2 separate regions of the Homo sapiens genome follow, and region 1 is linked to region 2. The links come from fine-mapping of genetic effects on gene expression. A gene starts in region 2. The other region holds a variant in brackets. All regions are shown on one strand. Distances are from middle to middle. Region 1 has its middle 18 kb from the start of ZDHHC2. Region 2 holds the start of MICU3 (mitochondrial calcium uptake family member 3).

The links. PIP is the estimated chance that this variant, and not a neighbour inherited with it, causes the effect.
Region 1: its variant is fine-mapped to the expression of MICU3 in whole blood (TOPMed, PIP 0.94).

What each region holds. Positions count from the first base shown.
Region 1 is chr8:17,132,707-17,143,319 of GRCh38, forward strand. It overlaps a transcript of MICU3 not described here. Among named protein-coding and RNA genes, the nearest start is that of ZDHHC2, 18 kb to the right of the region's middle. The variant G/A (reference allele first, on the strand shown) is at 5,355.
Region 2 is chr8:17,020,229-17,030,565 of GRCh38, forward strand. MICU3 (mitochondrial calcium uptake family member 3) reads left to right here and starts at 7,010. Exons shown (of 15, transcript NM_181723.3): 1 at 7,010-7,432. The coding sequence starts at 7,052. RefSeq lists a silencer at 6,988-7,397 and an enhancer at 7,548-7,637.

The DNA of each region.
Region 1 (10,613 bases), 110 kb after region 2:
CTTTAAGAACTCAGATCTCTGAAATGGCAGAGCTCAAAGATGCCAGAAGCAGCAGCAAATATTCTGCAAGTGTGTTATTAGGTGTTGCTACGGTCTGAATGTTGGTGACCTCCCAAAATTTATATGTTGAAATCTAATCACAAACGTAATAGTATTAAGAAATGGGGCCTTTAGGAAGTGATTAAGTCATGAGAGTGGAACCCTCATAAATGAGATTAGTGCCTTGGTAAAAGAGGTGCAAGGGAACTGTTCACCCCTTCCTCCAGGTGAAGAGCCACAAGAAGATGCCATATTGGAAGCAGAAAGCAAGCCCTCGCCAGGCACTGAATCTGCTTGATCTGGGACTTCCCAGCATCTAGAACTGTAAGAAATAAGTTTCTGTTGTTTATGAATTACCCAGTATAAGCTATTTTGTTATAGCAGCTGAAACAGACTAAGACAAATATAATAGAGGAGCCATTCTTTCATCCTACTTTTGATTCCTGAACCCATGTATTCTGGTTATGATGGGGAAAGTGCACTATCTAGTTGTTTGTTTGTTTTTAATTGGAGGATTAGTCCAATCAAACTGCTCCACTATTAACAGAAGCTAGAAATAAACCCCTTTGTTATTGACATTTTTTGCTAACCATTAAGATTTTTGTTATTTATGGGTTATCTATTTCTGTCTTTTGCCACATATATTTTTTTAAATCTGTTCATTCACTTTCTTTGTATATCAAATATATAGATCATTTGGCTGTCCTATAAGTTGCACGTATTCTTCCAGTGTATTATTTCAGTTTTATTTATATATATATCTCAAAGATTTTCATTTTTATGTATTTGGATGTGATCTTTTTAGTTGCCATTTCCTTACTGCTTTTAAGCTTAGAAATACCTCTTCCAATTTAATAAACTGTCATATATTTTATTGTTTCTATTTTCTTTGCATATAACTAAAAAAATCCACCTGGGACTAATTTTGTTACCTGGTAAAAAATGAGGACCTAGTTTGTTTGACCCACAAATATCTAACCAACTTATCCAGCACTATTTATGGAATAATTCTTCCTTTTTGCCACCTAATATAATGCAAATTATATTTTAAATATTTAAAAAGATTTTTACATACCTAAATCTATTTCAGCATACTCCTTGTGTGGGGATGTAAATAAATAAACTATTCTCTTCATTTGGACTATCTGGCTGTTCTTGTAACTACATTGTTTTACTTACTTTATAATATGTTAGACTATTTTGTAAGACTAACGTGCCTCCATCTTCAATAGCCACATGTAAATTCCTCTTTTTAATTTTTAAAAACTATTCATACTGGCTTATCCTTTCAGATGAATATTAGAATTGTTTTATCTTCTCCAAGTGAGATTTTTATTTACTCACTTTAAAATTATAAATTAATTTGGACTGATTGACAATTGTATTATGGTTCTCCAGAGAAACAGAACCAATGGGATGTACATAAAGAGATTTATTGTAAGAAATCGGCACATGTGATTATGGAGGCTGACAAATCCCAAGATCTGCAGGGGGAGGTGGCAAGCTGGAGACTCAGGTGAGCAGACGTTGTATTTCTTATTTCAATCCTAAAGCCTGAGAACCAGGAGAGCCAATGGTGTAATTCTAGTCCAAAGGCTGGCAGGCTTAAGATCTAGGAAGAGCTCATGTTTCAACTTGAAAGCAGATGGGCAGAAGGAATTGTCTTACTCAGAAGAAAGTCAGCCTTTTGTTTGTTTGTTTGTTTGTTTGTTTGTTTGAGACAGAGCCTCACTCTGTCACTCAGGCTGGAGTGCGGTGGCATGATCTCTGCTCCCTGCAAGCTCCACCTCCCAGGTTCATACCATTCTCCTGCCTCAGCCTCCCGAGTAGGTGGGACTACAGGTGCCCACCACCACACCTGGCTAATTTTTTTATTTTTTAGTAGAGACGGGGTTTCACCATGTTAGCCAGGATGGTCTCAATCTCCTGACCTCGTGATCCGCCCGCCTTGGCCTCCCAAATTGCTGGGATCATAGGCGTGAGCCACCACACTGGCCGAAAGTCAGCCTTTTTGTTCTCTTCAGACTTTCAAATGATTGGATGTGGCCTGCCCACATCAGGGATAGCAATCTGCTTTAGTCTACTGATTTAAATGTTAAACTCCTCCAAAAACACCCTCACAGACACACCCAGAATAACATTTGTCAAGTATCTGGGCACCAAATGGCCCAGTCAGGTTGACACATGACGTTAACCATCACAACACCTTTATACTATACCATTTCATTCAGTGATAATTATTTGAGTTCAGTTGTATATTCTACTTACAAGTCAAGATTTATGGGTTTCATTATCCAGGTCATGCCTGCTTCTTACAATTATGGTCTTTCCTATAATATGCATACCTATTGTTGCTTTTAAGAATGGACATTTGGCCAGGCGCAGTGGCTCATGCCTGTAATCCCAGCACTTTGAAAGGCCAGGGCAGGTGGACCACAAGGTCAGGAGTTTGAGACCAGCCTGGCCAAGATGGTGAAACCCCATCCCTACTAGAAATACCAAAATTAGCCAGGTGTGATGGTGGGCAGGAGTAGTCCCGCTACTCGGGAGGCTGAGGCAGGAGAATTGCTTGAACCTGGGAGGTGGAACTTGTAGTGAGCTGAGATTGCGCCACTGCACTCCAGCCTGGGCAGCAGAGCAAGACTGTCTCAAAAAAAAAAAAAATGGACATTTTTCCGTTAGATTTTCTATCTGATTTTTGTTGGTATACAGAGAAGCAACTGATTTTATTTGTTCAGCACTTAACTGAACTCTTGGTAGTACTGAAAGTTTTTCAATTGATTCTCTTAGGTTTTCTGGTGGGCAGTCATATTACATGCAAACTAAGGCAAATGTGTCTTTGCCCTATCTACATTATTGCTTCTATTTCTATCTTCTGTATTATTGCATTGATCATAGCCTCCAGAAGAGTGTAAAATACTAATAGAGGCAGCAGAAATCTTTCGAATTCCCATTTTAATAGGATGATCTCTGTAATTGTTCAAATTAACATTTTGCTGTTGATCAGAAGAAAGTATCCTTTATTTCCTGAATTTGGAAGAAAAAGGATTGAGTGTTGAATCATCTCAAATGCCTTTCAGTAGTCACTGATAAATCGGTTATATCATTTTTCCAACTTGACCTCCAGATGTAATATATCTTTTTATAGGCTTCCTATATTAAATTATTCTACATTAGTGTAATAAACTCAAATAGATCATTCTTTTCATTTTCTGATCTTGGACAAGTTGACTTCTCTATGTTAGCTTCTTCATCTATAAAGTAGAGCTAAAAATTGTACTTACTCCATGTTATAGGACATAGTTGAGATAATTCACATAAAGTAAATTCATGGAAAATACCTAGCACAATCTCCAACACAACTCCTAGGGTATGTTCAGCTAGTATCATCATCATGGTTATTAACCAGTAGGCTGGAATATGGTTACAGCAGGGAAAATTATATTTCCCTAAGAGTTTTCTTATATTCATGAGAGGGACATTTCTCATATATTTTTAAAGGAAATAAAGTAGGTATTTTTAGATTTCTATGTATGAATCACGGACAGCAACAATAAAAAAGTTATTTTTCATTATTTTATTGTAAAGCGATGTTGTTTGCTTATACCTATCTCCTTGGGTTAAATACGAAGTCCCTTGCACAGTTGGGTTGGGTTCATGGCCTTGTGACCACCGCAGTTGCACAAAGACCCATGTCAGAAGGGCTCCACATATGGGTTTTAATCCTCCGCTGTCACCCTTTTGAAATTCTTAACAATTTTTAAGTCACTGGGAAAATGGAGCTTGTGGAGGGGATTAGAGCCTCTGCTCACTCATGGCTCTGCTTCCCATTCCATCCCCACCTTCCTAGGATTCTTGGCTACCCTCTGTCTTGCCAAGGGCCTCACCCTCCCCACCCTGTCCAGCTACTGCTGCCAGTCTTCATCCCCCAACAGCGGCCTGGGTGCAGGTATAGATAGGAGTTGGGCAGGGCATACGTGACCCAGAAAGTCTTCAGGCAGAGCATGGTGGAAGCCATTCTACCCTAGGCTGGCAGTGCCGTGGTGCAGAGGCTGTAGCCAACTGGGGACCACAACTCAGGGGAGATAAACCTTTTTTTTTTTTTTTTGAGACGGAGTCTCTCTCTGTTGCCAGGCTGGAGTGCAATGGCGTGATCTCAGCTCACTGCAACCTCCACCTCCTGGGTTCAAGTGATTCTCCTGCCTCAGCCTCCCAAGTAGCTGGAACTACAGGTGCACGCCACCACGCCCAGCTAATTTTTGTATTTTTAGTAGAAACGGGGTTTCACCATGTTGGCCAGGATGGTCTTCATCTCTTGACCTCATGATCGGCCTCCCAAAGTGCTGGGATTACAGGCGTGAGCCACCACTCCCGTCCAAACCTTTCTTTCACTTATCTTCAATCCAAGTACGTAAAGGCTTCTAGCCCAAAGGTTGCAATATCCTTGGGGTTGCCTATGTACCCCTATCTAAGTTTGGCTTATCAGTGCCATGAGGTATGAATTATGTAATTTCAGTGATTCTACATAGGAGTTAAATGTTCTATTTGCATTTAAAACTGGCATTGCCCAATATAAGCAGTAAACATCATACTAATTTTTTTTCTCCCAGTGGCTGTGAGAACATCATATTAATAATTTTTTTAAATTTTATTTACTTAGAATGATATTAAATAGCACATAAAAACACTACGACAAGTTGAGAGAGACAGACCACGGAAGGAAGAAAAAAGTTTTATATTTAATACCTTAAACCACACTATTTCCTGCTTTTTTTTAAAAAAAAAAAAAAAAAGGGGGCCCTGTATTTTCATTTCACACTGGGCTTCAAAAACTATGTAGCCCATCTTTTCTTGGGATATGGAAATTTGGGCCAGTATCCAAGTGTGTAAGTATGTCTAAGTTTGGATAAATACAGGATGGTAAGAAACAGACAAGGGAAAGAGTAATATTTTCTTTTCCTTTTTTTTTTTTTTTTTTTTTTTTTTTTTTGAGACAGAGTCTCACTCTGTCGCCAGGCTGGAATGCAGTGGCACAATCTCGGCTCACTGCAACCTCCGATTCCCAGATTCAAGCAGTTCTCCTGCCTCAGCCTCCTGAGTAGCTGGGACTACAGGTGCGCACCACCACGCCCAGCTAAATTTTGTATTTTTCGTAGAGACAGGGTTTCACCATATTGGCCGGGATGGTCTTGATCTCTTGACTTTGTGATCCGCCTGCCTCAGCCTTCCAAAGTGCTGGGATTACAGGCATGAACCACCATGCCCAGCCAAGAGTAATATTTTCTATTACATGGAAGTGGATTTTGATTTTCTCA[G/A]AATTATAATGGAGGAAGGAATATTAAGATGGTAAAAATGCTCATGATACCAAAGATGTCACCCACATAGTGATAAACTCTTAAGAGAATTTGATGTTTAAAGAGTTATGATGTCTGATCTGATTTCTTGAGTTTCATCAATAAGAATGAGGGACTCAACAACCAAATTCCAAAGAGGTTTGCATTAAAAAGGGTGTAACTCCAGCAGAATGTAAATGTATGTAAAATAGATAATAGCAAGATGTTATAATGTTTTTATTTTGAATGAGGCAGAAGCTGTTTCGGAAAAAAAGAAATAGAGGTTTAAAGAACACAGAACATACCTTCAACCGTCATGGCAGGGTGGTGGACCACGAGGAAATGACTGTGACAAGTCAGCTAATCTTGGAACAAATTAGGGAAGGAAATGATGAACAACAGCTGCAAAGAAAAAAATGCAAGAATTTGCAAATGATGTCCACTTTGTCTTTAATTTACCCAATGCTGGAAAGAATACTGGTCACCTCACTTTTCGGTAATATACGCACCATCGTCTTCAGACACAGAAGAATGAGAAATAATTAAAAGTCACTGAGACGGCTCTCACCTCCTGTACTTCATTATCACACAATGTCTTGCTAGAGAGGCATTTTCATTCCAGATGAATATGTGGTTGATTAGCGCTTTTCCAAAAGCAAATTGTCTGAGGTTCTCTGTACTGCATTTCCTGGTACCAATTCCTCATTAAGGTGATTCATGAATTTTTTTTCAATTAGGTTCGTATGTCTTTTTAAAAATCAATTTGGTGTCTACCTTTCAACTAAATGAATGAGCCAGTGTATCATTCAGACAGGTGTGGACTTGCATAACTATTAAGTTAAATGAGCCTTTCATAGAATTGAGAAAATGGGCAAGGATTAAAAGTGGAATCTGAACAGGAATCACTATTTCAAAAAGAACAAATTAGAAAATATGAATAAACAGGTGAACTACATGAGCCCTTCCATTCAGAATAGCATGGCGGGTAAGCATGGGCTCTGGAGTCAGACTTCTCTGAGTTCCAATCTTGGCTCTTTTGCTAACTTCCTTTGTAATTAAACAAGGTCGTAACACTTTCCACCTCTCAGCTTTTTCATGTGTGAGATGAGATCATGATAGCAGCTGTGTCCTTGGGTGGTGGTGAGAATTAAATGGGAAATCGCCTTTAAAGCACTGAACTGAGCACACAGTAAACATTTAATAAACGTTAGTTCCTATTATTCCTAAAATAATACTATTCATTTAGAATCACTTATTAGTAATCAATGCTAACTTGACCTTAACGATTAAAATAAAGATAAAAATTCATGGGCTATCGAAACCTATAATGTGGTACTCATTATTCAAGTGGAATGAAAACGCTGAAAAGAAAATGTTTTTTCAAAATTTCATCTGGCAAATATTGCCAAATAGTTTAAAGCAACCCTACATGTTTTTTCCATACCTCATTATCCTGTGCCATGAGGGGGAAGAAAGGATGTATTTTAATTGTTGTGACCACCTTCATCTATTGAAGTCTTGATTTTTCAGGCACCTCCTTCGTTTTATTAAATATTTTATGCTGTGCATGTGAAATATGTAGTCCATGTACCCAGGGATATTTCTGTCTACTAGTTTTCCTTGTTCCTAAAAACAGAAATGAGGAATGCCTACGGCTAAAAAGAAAAAAAAAACTGTCTTCCTGTCAGCAGCTCCTTCTGCTGATATGTCACCGATGCCAAATTATATATTCACGTAATTTGCATTTTCCCACTCTTAGTTTTTTTTTTAAATCATTAGGTCAAAAGCTAAAATACATTCCTTTTTATAGCAGAAAATTGCTCCTGTTTGTTCAAAGCCAATTTGAAAGATTTGATCATCAGAAAAACATATATGTGTCTATATATAATTTCTAAATTTGGCTTCAAACCCCTACTTATTTAGTAGTGCCACACAATAGCTTTTTTTAATGTAAGATTTTCCTTTAAGAAATGGGAATAAAGCTCTAGGTATTTATTTTTTGAAAAGTGCTGTTTAATCCTGTGCTTAGCATAGTGCCTGGTATTTGATAGATAACAAATATATATTTGTTGAAAAATAAGTGAATGAATGAATGAATAAGCAAAGTAAGGCATATCAAGCCTGAAAGGTAGATATAGTCTGCTTGACTTTTCCTTTACTGCTTGACACATTTCCTAACTTTTTCTACCTCCTAACATTAAAACAAAAATACAATGACATACTTGAGAGTTTTCTAGTAAGATGCATGTCCCAGCAACTAAAAAGCAACTCCAGCCGGGTTCAGTGGCTCACGCCTGTAATCCCAGCACTTTGGGAGGCCAAGGCGGGTGGATCACAAGGTCAGGAGATCAAGACCATCCTGGCTAACACGGTGAAACCCTGTCTCCATTAAAAATACAAAAAATTAGCCGGGTGTGGTGGCACGCGCCTGTAGTCCCAGCTACTCAGGAGGCTGAGGCAGGAGAATCGCTTGAACCCACGAAGTGTAGGTTGCAGTGGGCCGAGATCACGCCACTGCACTCCAGCCTGGGCGACAGAACAGGACTCTGTCTCAAAAACAACAATAAAAAAAGCATCTCCATGAGATGGATTTTTTTCTCGGGTACTAAATGCTGATAGTAGCTAACATACAGTCATCACATATATTATGCATATAAAATGCTTAGCATATATATACATATATAATGCCAGATACTATGCTGAGCATTTTATGCACATACTGTTATTAATATCCTCAACATTCCTATGAGAGAGTAGATAATATATGCCCCAGCTCATATCTGAGGCATAAAGAAGTTAAGTAATTTCCCTAGGGTTATATAGCAATAAGGATAAAACCAAGACTCAGACCCAGGTTGTCTAATTCCTGAGCCAAGCTCTTAACCACCATGATGAATTCCTTACTGTGATGCAAGAGTACTGGGAAGTAAACAGAGGTGACTTCTAAGCCATGGAAGAGGTGCCAGTGAGACTATGGTTTGGTGGGAAATTTAGGACTCTTGAGCAGTGCTGTGGAGCTGGAGCAGAATGGGCACGAGGTATCGGGAAAAGACGGAATATTAAAGCGAAGAACTGGATTGGGGGAAGGCGTATTATTGGCCTATATCTAGGGTCATATAATTTATCATCCAAACCGGGACACTTTTGAAAGTGAAAAGGGACTCTATTCAGAATTACATCAAGACAGTGCTCCAAACTGGGACTATCCAAGCTAAACTAGGACATGTAGTCATCTTTCCCATGTCCCTCTCTTGCTAACTTATTTTTTCCTTTCTTCCTCTCTTATTCTCTTCTCCCTTTTCTCTCCCTCTTCGTCCTCCCTATGTCCCTCACTGGCTCTTTACATGTACCTTAAATGGCAGTAATTTGTTGCGTTTAACTGGAGTTGGGATGCTCATTAAGTGCCTCATGTTCGAACCGAGTTAAACAAATGTTCCAAAACAATAGTTCCGTTGTTGCTGTATTATTTATCTATTGCGGCATTGCAAATTACCCCAAATTGCAGCTGCCTAAGAAAACAAACATTATTTCCCACAGTTTCTGAGTCAGTCAGGAGCAGCTTTGCTGGGTGAGTCTAACTCAAGGTCTCTCCTGAGGGTGCAGTCAAGCTGTTGGCTCGCACTACAGGCATCAGAAGGAATGACTGCAGCTGGAGGACTGACTTCCAGAACACTCACTCACATGGCGACCCCCATCCTCTGCTACATGGCCCTCTCGATGGGGCTGCTCATGACAACAGGGCAGCTAACTTCTCACGGCTCAAGTGATGTGAGGCTGAGGAGGAAGCCGTGGTGTCTTTTTTTGAACCAGTCTTTGAAATTTCCCACTATTAATTCTGCTTTATTTTATTCATTAGAAGTGAGTCACTAAGTGCTATGGTCTGAATGTTTGTGTTCTGCCAAAATTCATATGTGGGAACCCTAACCCCTAGGTGATGGCAGCGTTTAGGGGTGGAGCCTGTGTTAGTCCATTTTCACGCTGCTGATAAAGACATACATAAGATGGATAATTTATAGAGAAAAAGAGATTTAATGGACTCACAGTTCCACGTGGCTGGAGAGGCCTCACAATCATAGCAGAAGGCAAAAGGCACATCTTACATGATAGCAGGCAAAGAGAGAGTGAGAGCCAAGTGAAAGGGGTTTCCCCTTATAAAGTCATCAGATCTCGTGGGACTTATTCATGACCACAAGAACAGTATGGGGAAACCGTCCCCATGATTCAATTATCTCCCACTGGGCCCCTCCCACAACACGTGGGAATTATGGGAGCTATAATTCAAGATGAGATTTGGGTGGGGACACAGCTGAACCATATCAGAGCCTTGGGAAGTGATTAGGTCCTGAGGATGAAGCCCTCATGAAAGAAATTAGCACCCTTATAAAAGAGGCCCCAGCAAGCGCGTTGGCCACTTCTACTATGTAAGAGTACAGAGAAAAATCATCTTTGAGGGAACCAGAAAGCTGGCCTTCACCAGACATCAAATCTGCCAGTGGCTTCATCCTAGACTTCCCAGCCTCCAGAACTGTGAGAAAGAAATTTCTGTTGTTTAGAAGCTACCTAGTTTATGATACTTTATTATAGCAGCCAGAATGGACTAAGACACTAAGTCCACTCAGCACTCAAGGGTAGGGGATGAGCCTTCACTTCTTGAAAGGCGAAGTATCAAAGAATTTGTGCACATATTTAAAATCATCACAGCTACATAGTTTTTCAAACTGACTCTTTGATTTAATTTTACTTCTGGGGCCCTGTCCAAAGAAAACAACTAAATAGAAGGGGAATGTTAGATGAGCCAAGTTATTTATGGTATGTTATGCCAGTGAAAAATTAGAAAACACCTACATAATTAACAATAAAGGAATGGTTTAATGAATTATAGTACTTCTACAGAATAGAATACTGTGCAAATATTTAAAATTATTCTAGACTGGGCATGGTAGTAATCCCAGCACTTTGGGAGGCTGAGGCAGGAGGATCACTTGAGCCCAGGAGTTGGAGGCTGCAGTGAGCTATGATCATGCCACTGCACTGCAGCCTGAATAACAGAGCAAGATCCTGTCTCAAAAAACTTTTTTTTTAATTTAATAAAATAATTCTGAAGCCTGTATAGCAGCATGAAAAAAATGTTTGTAATGAAATATTTATGAGAACACAAAATTGTATGTAGGCTATCATTTCAACTCTAAAAAGAAAACACACAAAAAGACCAGATGGAAACAAGCTAAAATAACAATGGTT
Region 2 (10,337 bases):
GCACTAGGCCTTACGATCACATACCCACTGGCTCTGTCCATATGGACGCTTCAGAGGAGAAAATGCTGCAAGTTAAAGAAGTTAAAACACTACATTGTTTGCTTAAAATACAAAGTTCCTTTTGGTCTTTTCCTTAATAAATACGAAAAATCACTAATAGTATCTTCTTAGTAGTCTTCAAGTAGTAAAAGATGTTTATTAAAATACTCCTTGGTTAAATCTTCTCAGGCTATATCAAGCTTATATAAGCTAAACTTTTCCTTTAGTTTCCAATTCTTCAATCAATTTTATTGTTCTTAGTTGAACTCTTTTCAAGCTCTACACATTCCTTTAAAGTTGTATAGTTCATAACTGAGCAAAGTCCTCTAGTAAATAACACATTAGTATAAGAGCATTAGGAAGAAAATCTATGTTTTCTTCTATATAAACTTTTTATTGAAGTGTTACGTATATAAAAATGTTATAGAAATTATAACTGGACAGCTCTACGAATATTTATAGAGTAAATACACGTGTCATTGGCACCCATATCAAGACACAGAACTCCCAAAGCTCCTTTTTCTGCCTTCTAATCACTTCCCTGCACCCAGGGAGACCACCATCCTAATGTCTAATGTTATTTATATCTATTTGTTGTTGTTGTTGTTGTTGAGCTTTTAAAATAGAGTAATAAAGTTGGTTCTTTTGTGTCTGCCTTCTTTACCTCACTTTTGCTTTAAAATTTATCCCAGTGATTGCATGTAGTTGCAATTCAGTAATTTTCATTGCTTTATATCATTTCATTATGTGAATATGCCACATTTTTAAATAATCCAAGCCACTGTTGATGAACATATGAATAGTTTCTGGTTTGTTGCCAATTAGAAATGATGCTACTATGAATATTCCTCTATATGTCTTTTTTTTTTTTTTTTTTTTTGAGATGGAGTCTCACTCTGTCACCCAGGCTGGAGTGCAGTGGCGCGATCTCGGCTCACTGCTAGCTCCGCTTCCCGGGTTCATGCCATTCTCCTGCCTCAGCCTCCCGATTAGCTGGGACTACAGGTGCCCACCACCACAGCCAGCTAATTTTTTTGTAATTTTAGTAGAGATGGGGTTTCACCGTGTTAGCCAGGATGGTCTCGATCTCCTGACCTCGTGATCTGCCCGCCTTGGCCTCTCAAAGTGCTGGGATTACAGGCATGAGCCACCCACTGTGCCCAGCCTCCTGTATATGTCTTTTGATGGACATAAGTACTCATTTCTTTTCATGAGTCTTTCACCTAAAAAGTGAAATTAATGGGTCATAGGATATGCATATGTCCAGCTTCAGTAGACACTGCTAAGCCCAGCGGGCCCAATCAAAACTCAGGCAAAGGAACCACTGGCCACAGAGGTTTCTGGACAGGAAAACAACACCCCAAAGATCCCATAACATTTTGCTACCAAAGTGTCACTCTTGTGTAATGGGTGATCATTATGTTACTATGAGGTTATTCTGCACCAGAAGACACTTTTTAATGGACATAGAAGCTTTAATCACTATCAGACATGAAAATAGGAAAAGACAATTGAGAAAGAGCTTCCTTGTTTTCCGGTGGGAGGCTTTGCTGGTAGTAAGTCCGTCCTGCTATTGCCTGTGTCCCAAGTACATAAGAAGTCACTACCACCAAATGGAGAACAAAGACACAGGGGATTGTGGGACTTAAACAGCAGAAATTGAACAGTGAGACACCATCAACAAAGACCCTGGAAATTATGTAAAACAGACTGGATAGACGTAGTAGTCAAACCGAGGGTGTTACTGCTCTGGAAAGGTAGTTAAAAGTGTACAATTGCCAGCTTGGTTATTGTCCCCAGTGAAAGATCTAAGAACAAAAGGGGAGGTGTGGCCAGTCAATCACTGATGTTTGGCCATGGATGATGCTGCATTTTCCTCGGAGGACCAAAAGAATGGACAGAGCCGGCTGGGCACTGTGGCCCACGCCTGTAATCCCAGCACTTTGGGAGGCCGAGGCGGGCAGATCATGAGGTCAGGAGATCGAAACCATCCTAGCCAACATGGTGAAATCCCGTCTCTACTAAAAATACAAAAATTAGCTGGGCATGGTGGCGCTCGCCTGTAGTCCCAGCTACTCGGGAGGCTGAGGCAGGAGAATTGCTTGAACCTGGGAGGCGGAGGTTGCAGTGAGCCGAGATCGCGCCACTGCGCTCCAGTCTGGTGACAAAGCAAGACTCCGCCTAGAAAAAAAAAAAAATGGAGAGAGCCTTGGGGAAAACCTATGGCTTTAAGGCTCTAGTCCAGGAGGATACGGCCAAATCATAGTAACAGGATAACTTCAGTGCTAGAATCTGAAAATCACAAAATCTGTTCTTGAATCAAGCTTTCTGCATGATCATACTTTGTTGTCCACCCCCCTCCCCTTTTTTTAGAGGGTCTTGCTTTGTCACCCAGGGGCTGGAGTGCAGTGGCATGATCATAGCTCACTGCAGCCTCGAACTCCTGGGGCAAGCAATCATCCCACCTCAGCCTCCTGAGCTGCTGGGACTGCAGGCATGCACCACCACTCCTGGCTAATTTTAATTTTAATTTTTGTAGAGACAGGTTCTCACTATGTTTCTCTGGCCGGCCTTGAACTTCTGGCTTCAAATGATCCTCCTGCCTTGGCCTCCCAAAGTGCTGGGATTACAGGTGTGAGCCACTTCACCTAGCCCACACTCTATCTGTGATCCTTCTTTGCCAGTCCCTTGCTTTTTCCCTTTGGCCTCCCATCTGTGTTGATTGCATTTCCTCATTGATGTGCTGCTTGGTTTGTCAGCTTGTTTAGTGTCTGATGGGCCATTGTATTTCCTTGTCACCTAACTTGCCTTCCTATGTTGACCTCCACCTTCCCCCCTTTTCAAGACATTGCTTTTCATTTAGTAAATATAATTGAGGTCCTAATGTGTGCCAGGAACTGGGCTAGAAGATGCATACCCTGGCCTCATGTTGCTTAGAGTCAGCTTGGCTTTGCCTAATGGAAAAAGGGTGAGATACAGATCACAGTCTTTGGGAATGAGAGCTCATCAAAACAGAAAACAGACCCTCAGTGTCTTGTGTAACTTGGTTTCCATAGCCCTGGATGCTGAGGAATTGAGTTCTAGATTGCTGGTGGGTAGCACTTTGAAGAAAACAGAGCAAGAACATACCTTCCCCAACACTGTCTCCTATGTCAGTTTTGCCCTAAGGAAGACAGCATGGAAGGTGGAAGGCAATTTGAGAAAATGATGACAACTTTCCCAAGAGAGAAGAAGATGGTTGCAACCTTGCTCTCTGCTGGTAGACTTGAGTGGACCTGGGGATGGGGTGGTTCATGTGCCCTGATACAGATCTCAGATGTAACTGCTGCTCTTTTAACTAGTCAAGAATCTGGAGCTCAGAATGACCAAAATAAGGAATGCAGTATATTTTAATAGAAGTTTTGTTAAACAAGACATTCCTGCCTATTGCACTTATATTCCACTTTTTCAAACTTTTCAAAATCACTAACGTATTTGCAATTTTAAATGCAGTAGAAGGTTAAAATAATTAGATAAAGGAATGGATTTTTTTTTTTTTAAACATAGTCTTGCTCTCTCACCCAGGCTAGAGTGCAGTGGCTCAGTGATGGCTTACTGCAACCTCCTTTTCCCCGGTTCAAGCCATCCTCCTATTTCAGCCTCCCGAGTAGCTGGGACCATAAGCACGCACCACTATGCCTGGCTAATTTTTGTATTTTTTGTAGAGACGAAGTTTTGCCATATTGCCCAGGTTGGTCTCGAACTCCTGAGTGATCAACTCACCTTGGCCTCCCAAAGTGCTGGGATTACAGACGTTAGCCTGCGTGGTCCGGGGATGGAATTTTAAGTTGAAAGAATAAAACAATCTTAGGCCAATTGTAGATTTTCAGAAGAGAAATGATACATGAAAAATACCATGAAGTATCTTTCTATGGTTTACTGATACACTTGGAGCATTTTAGTTCATTAGAAAGATGGGTTCAGGGGTGATCATCTATTTCAACTCCACTATTTTAGAGACTGTGGCTTCCAAAGCATTATAATTAAGATGCAGCAAATCCAAGACTGGAGTCCAGATTTCTTCACTTCTAATTTATTACTTATTCACTGAGGTATATGCTTTCCTGGAAAACCCTTTTTGGCTTAATCCCCATTGTTTGAAACATTTTTATTGTTTCAGAACATTTCTTTTTATTTAGACCATAGTGAACGATAAGTGGATATTTCTTTCAAGGTGTGGGCTCTCACTGTGGAGTAGGGGCATTTTGGGGGTTATTCTTAATGCTCAGTAGAATTGACATAAAAGATAAGGGATACTGGGTTGACTCTATATTGATCCAACAATATTACCTGAAATTTCAAAAAAAAAAGGTTCCAAATTCCTAATATCATATTTTCTTAAAATTTTTCCTCTGGGAATTAAACTCAGAAAAATATCCACATAACAAGGGAATTTGGTTATTTTTGTGTAGCTATAGTTACAGAGCATCAAACGTGGGAAGAAAACAGTAACTATTCTTAAGGAAATTTCACCTTTAGAGGGAAAGTACTGTTGAAAATTATTAGTAAAGCTGTTTTTGCACGTGAGAGGTATTTTATCCAAAGTTCTCTGACTGATCTACAAACATAAACTTAGCCCTTCTCACAGCAGTACTTAGCTTCTAACCAGATAAATTGTTTGCAGGAGCTCTATCAAATTTAGAAAACTATAGAGAAACTACATAGAAATCTATACGTATGTGTCTGTATTTGTCATCTTAGATGAAGGATGTCATTTTCCTCATCTGTAATGTGATGTTATTGTATTACCTCCCTAATCTTCTTTAGAACTACTTAGCTTTTAACATGCAACTAGTAAAAATTGATCAGTTTGTCCAAGAATTCTGGCATTAGACTATAATAAGAATTTATGAGAAAATCAGGAAATCATGTTCAGTTCAAAGTAAACAGTGTCAGAACTATTATTATAATTTTTTTTTTTTGAGACAGAGTTTCGCTCTGTCACCCACGCTGGAGTGCAGCGGCACAGTCTCGGCTCACTGAAACCTCCACCTCCCGGGTTCAAACAGTTCTCCTGTCCCAGGCTCCTGAGTAGTTGGGACTACAGGCGCATGCCACCACACCTGGCTTTTTTTTTTTTAAGTTTTTTGTATTTTTAGTAGAGATGGGGTTTCACCGTGTTAGCCAGGATGGGCTCTATCTCCTGACCTCATGATCCACCCGCCTCGGCCTCCCAAAGTGCTGGGATTACAAGTGTGAGCCACCACGCCCGGCCAATATGATTATTATATTATATATAATATATATAATTATTACCCAGAAGATAATTTATTTGGGGAAACTACCATTTCACAGAATATAGAGAAAGCATAAATTGAGGAAAATTTGGTGATAAAGCAAGACGCTATCAGAGTCTTCCTTAGGCATTGACTCCATAAAACCCACAGGCTGAAACTGAAGAAAACTCAGAGACAGGTTTTAAAATACACAAAATTTGTTCATCTGCTACAGAAGATTTTTCTTCTTACCGCTTTTAGCAGCTTTAAGAAAGCAAAATGCCATTAACCTCTATTAAAATAAGAGGTAACAGGGTGTACCTGATGTGCTATTTACATGCAAGGTGTTAGGAATAGAAATTGCAGGACCTCCAGGAGTTCGAGGCCAGCCAGGCCAAGATGGTGAGACCCCCATCTCTACTAAAAACACAAAAATTAGCCAGGCACGGTGGCGGGTGCCTGTAATCCCAGCTACTCGGGAGGCTGAGGCAGGAGAATCGCTTGAACCAGGGAGACGGACGTTGCAGTGAGCCGAGAATGTGCCACTGCACTCTAGCCTGGGCAACAGAGCAAGACTCCGTCTCAAAAAAAGAAAAAAAAAAGGGAAGAAATTGTAGGACCTGAGCCAGAAAAAACTCATTTGGTCGTCTCTGAAAGCCTTTAGTCTTTACAAGAATTGCCAGAATCAACTGATGGTGTATTCTCTTGTCACTGCAGCCCAATTGAGACCACTGTATTTAGTTGTCTGTCCCCTTAGATCCACAATATTTTAGGGACTCCTGGCACCATTCCATAGTAGGAAGAAAAAGCTAACATAATTCAAGTTACCAAAACTGGGGTCTGGGGAGAGAAACTGATAGGAACTTCATCTACACTTTCTCATAAAAACTGATACTGATAACATAGCAAACAAAAAGTACAGTAAAAACAAAAAGATGACACAATACGCTTCTCATTTATTTTATATTTATACAAACAGCGCTTCCCTGAAAAATCAGGGTATCGTTCAAGATTTTATCTTTATTCACAGAAGTTTTAAAATTTTTAACTTTTATATGCACAAGACAGTTCTGATTTGTTGAATTAAGTGACCGCGGGTGTGCTAATGCTTCTAAAAAACAGCATTAGCCTTCTCCCATCAAAAGTCCGGAAGCTGCCCTTCAGTCGTCAAAGTGTTTGCCTTAATTTGCAATCGTTATGACTTGAGCCAAATGCTTATACCTCATTTGTGTCGTATATGTGAAGATACAATTGCAAATCGTTCACGACCTTGAGTCAAGACCTTGAGTTTCCTGAGGTCAGGAGACCGTTAGGGAATGTGAGTGTCCCAGACGGGCGCTGAGCCCAGCTCGGAGACCCACCCCGCCCGTAGCAGCGGCGCGGGCCCCAGAGAGCCCCGCACTCGGCCGCGCCTCAGTTACGCTGACTCGGCTGTGCCCGCAGTGTCGCGCTGTCGCGTAGCCAGGTGTCGCCGGGCTGGCGCGGTTATTTATGACTGCGTGGTTGGGCTGGGGGTTCGGGGCCGGGGAGCAGCCGGGATCCGCCGCCTCTTCCATGATCTTCCCGGGCCGAACCACGGGACCGCTACGCTGAAGGTGGCGTCGCGGGTCCCCGGGGCCGCGCGAGTGTAGGGGTCGCTCTCGGCCGGCCGCGAAGCTCGCGGCACCGACTTCTCGCGAGATTTCGGCGACCCCCCCCCCCGCCCCCGCCCCTCCGTTCTCTGCCCCCTCCCAGCTCTGGTGTGGGCGGCCTCCGCTATGGCTGCGCTGCGAAGGCTCTTGTGGCCGCCACCCCGGGTGTCTCCTCCACTCTGCGCTCACCAGCCCCTCCTTGGGCCGTGGGGGCGGCCTGCGGTGACCACCCTGGGCCTTCCTGGCCGGCCCTTCTCCTCCCGAGAGGATGAGGAGAGGGCTGTGGCGGAGGCGGCATGGAGGCGGCGGCGGCGCTGGGGGGAGCTGAGCGTGGCGGCGGCGGCCGGCGGGGGGCTGGTCGGCCTGGTATGCTACCAGCTGTACGGGGACCCCAGGGCCGGCTCGCCGGCGACCGGGCGACCCTCAAAGAGCGCGGCCACGGAGCCCGAGGACCCGCCCCGCGGCCGGGGGATGCTGCCCATCCCAGTGGCGGCTGCCAAGGAGACGGTGAGTGCGCGAGCGCGCGTCACACCTGCGCGGGGGATGTGACCTTCGTGCCGGGTACGCAGGACCCTGGAGGCTGTGGGGACGGTGCAAGCGCTGTGGCCGCGGGTGAGGAACTTCCCGTGAGCGAGGCTGACACCTAGGCCGGACAGCCTAGGATCCGGTCACCCACGTATTGGGAAGACCAGTGATGCTGTCCCTGATGCATCAGGACCTTAAAGGTGGCTGCAGCTACCAAGTATCAATCCAAACCCAAAACCAACACCCCTCCCCCTCTTACAAAAAAAGATTCAGAAATGAAGGCCATGACAGGCAGAAAGTGGACCGCTGTAGGTGTGGGAAAAAGGAACTCCTAGATTGCGCGGGGCGACAGCTAATGACCCAGGAGGTCTGTTGCATTAGAATGAGTTTCGAAGCAGCGGTCTGAGATCTCAAAAGCCACTACTTTAGCATATGAGAATTTATTAGTCCCAAGAAAGGAAATGCTAAACCTGCATGCTAACGCCCTTATCATACCCAGGGAATGTTGATGTTACCAGGTCTGAAAAGAAATAAAAAATTGTTCAAAAAGAGACATAAGTATTTCTCTCTTTTTCCTTCCCCCACTAAAGCCAGAATCCCGTTAGTAGGTAACGATAAAACACAAAATGGATAGGATAGCAAATGTAGGAGGCTGTGAATGACACAAACTCCTACAGAAGAAAGTCACGTGAAAATGTTCAACTGTCATTATGTAGTTAATAATACAAGGTAAAGATGTGTGAAAGGCAACAGTGAGTAAAGGAGCGTGATTTTTTTTGTCGCATCAGTATATTTAATAGTCATGTAAATGACTAGGAAAATTAAGGAGATTTTCCTTGCAAGGCTCGAAGAATGTGAACGGCGTAGATGAAAATAATTTAGAAAACAGAGAGCTATGCTGTTTCTAATGCAATTTTTATAGGCTTTGTTCTTAATACGCAGTGGTGATCTGATGTAAGTGCATCATTTCCTTTGGTGGAGGTTGTCAATGCAATTAGGTTACGGAATCTGCTTTATGGACTATCTAGCAGCAGATCACAAGCACATAACATAAAGTCCTTTTACACATGAATATTCAAAATACTAGGAAATACCCTCAAATCTCCACCCCCTCCCCCTTCACAAATACACATCCACTTTTGTGGCTTGGCAAGGAGCATAGCGTTTTTCATGATGGCAGAACTTTTAATTAACCATAGTTGGTCTAGGAACAGATCAGCAAGGTAGGGAATTCAAGTAGTATTTTCTTTTCTTTCTTAAAATTAATTTTACTTTTACAGTTGAGAGATGTTATCTTGCAGTTTTTAAAAAGACCACGTTCAGAAAGCTAGAACTTTGGCTCCACGACTTGCTACTTGTGTCATTATGGAGAAATTACTTGACCTGTCAATGCCTGTTTCCTCACCTGTGAAATGAGGCTAATAGTCTCCTGGGGTGTTATGAGAGTTAAATGAGTTAACACAGTATATTTAAAACAATGGTACTACTAAAGAACATTAAATAAATTTATTTTTTGGCTGAGCGTGGTGGCTCACGCCTGTAATCCCAGCACTTTGGGAGGTCGAGGCAAGCAGATCACCTGAGGTCAGGAGTTCGAGACAAGCCTGGCCAACATGGCGAAACCTCGTCTCTACTAAAAATACAAAAATCAGCCGGGTGTGGTGTTGGGCGCTTGTAATCCCAGCTACTGGCAAGGCTGAGGTAGGAGAATCACTTGAACCTGGGAGACAGAGGTTGCAGTGAGCCGAAATCACACCTCTGCACCCCAGCCTGGGTGACAAGAGCGAAACTCCATCTCAAAAAAAAAAATTATTTTTTATTCGTTTATTTATTTTGTACTTTTGTGCAGTTATTATTGCTTAGTGTTTATAAAAATTTCTGTTCATTGTTTTAGAAGTCAAATAATGTTAAAGTCCTGTGTCTTATGCTTCCCTAGCCTCTAGTCCTACTTTCTGATTGTCATGCCTTTTGTATTTCCCTCTCTGAAAACTTTTATGATCTGTTTATCCCTGGTGCTTGAAATTTTCACAGTAATGAGCTTCGGGATGTGTATTTTTTCACTGATTGTGCTAGGTTCTTAAGAGGCCTTTCAATATGGAAATCCGTGTCTAAAAAATTCTGTGTAATTTTCTTCTATTGTTTCTTTGATGATTTTTCTCTTCTCCCTCTTTCTATTCTCTTTTTCTGGAAATGCTGTTTCTTTGAAGTTAAATTTCCTGACAGATCCTAATCTAATTCTAATCATTCTTATATTTCGGTTTTAAAAAATATTTTCATCTGTTTATTTGTTTTTATAGCAGATATCCTGGGCTTTATCTTCCAACCTTCCTACTGAATTTTTTTATTTCTGCTATTCTACTTTTTTAATTCAAAGAGCGACTTTGTGTTCTCTGTTGTTGATGAGTTATAGCATTCTATTTTGCTTTCTATATGGCTGCTATATTTTCTCTTTTTGCTGTAAGGATATAAATTATAACTTTGTTTTGCCTTCTAAGGATATAAATTATAACTTTGGCCTTCTCTGTGCATTGCTTTGTTTCTTCCAGGTTCTTTTTTATTTCTGTTTGATTTTATAAGCTCTTGCTTTCATTTTGGAGGTTTTCCTCACATATCTGTGGTTGTTACCTGTCTCTTACTTGAGAACCTCTCAGAGGGTGTCTGTGCATAACATGTCCTTTCATCTGCACGAAAGGGCTTCTTATTAGTGTAACATCCAAATGTCAGTATTTTACAGCTCTTTTTCTCTGATGCTGTTGAGCGTCTACAAAAAATAGGAGAGATGAGAGGTGCAGTAGTCTTCTGGCAGCAGGCACATGTGCACATATATGTAACACCACTTATGTTGGTGAGTATTATGGGCTTCTTATTAGTGTAACATCCAAATGTC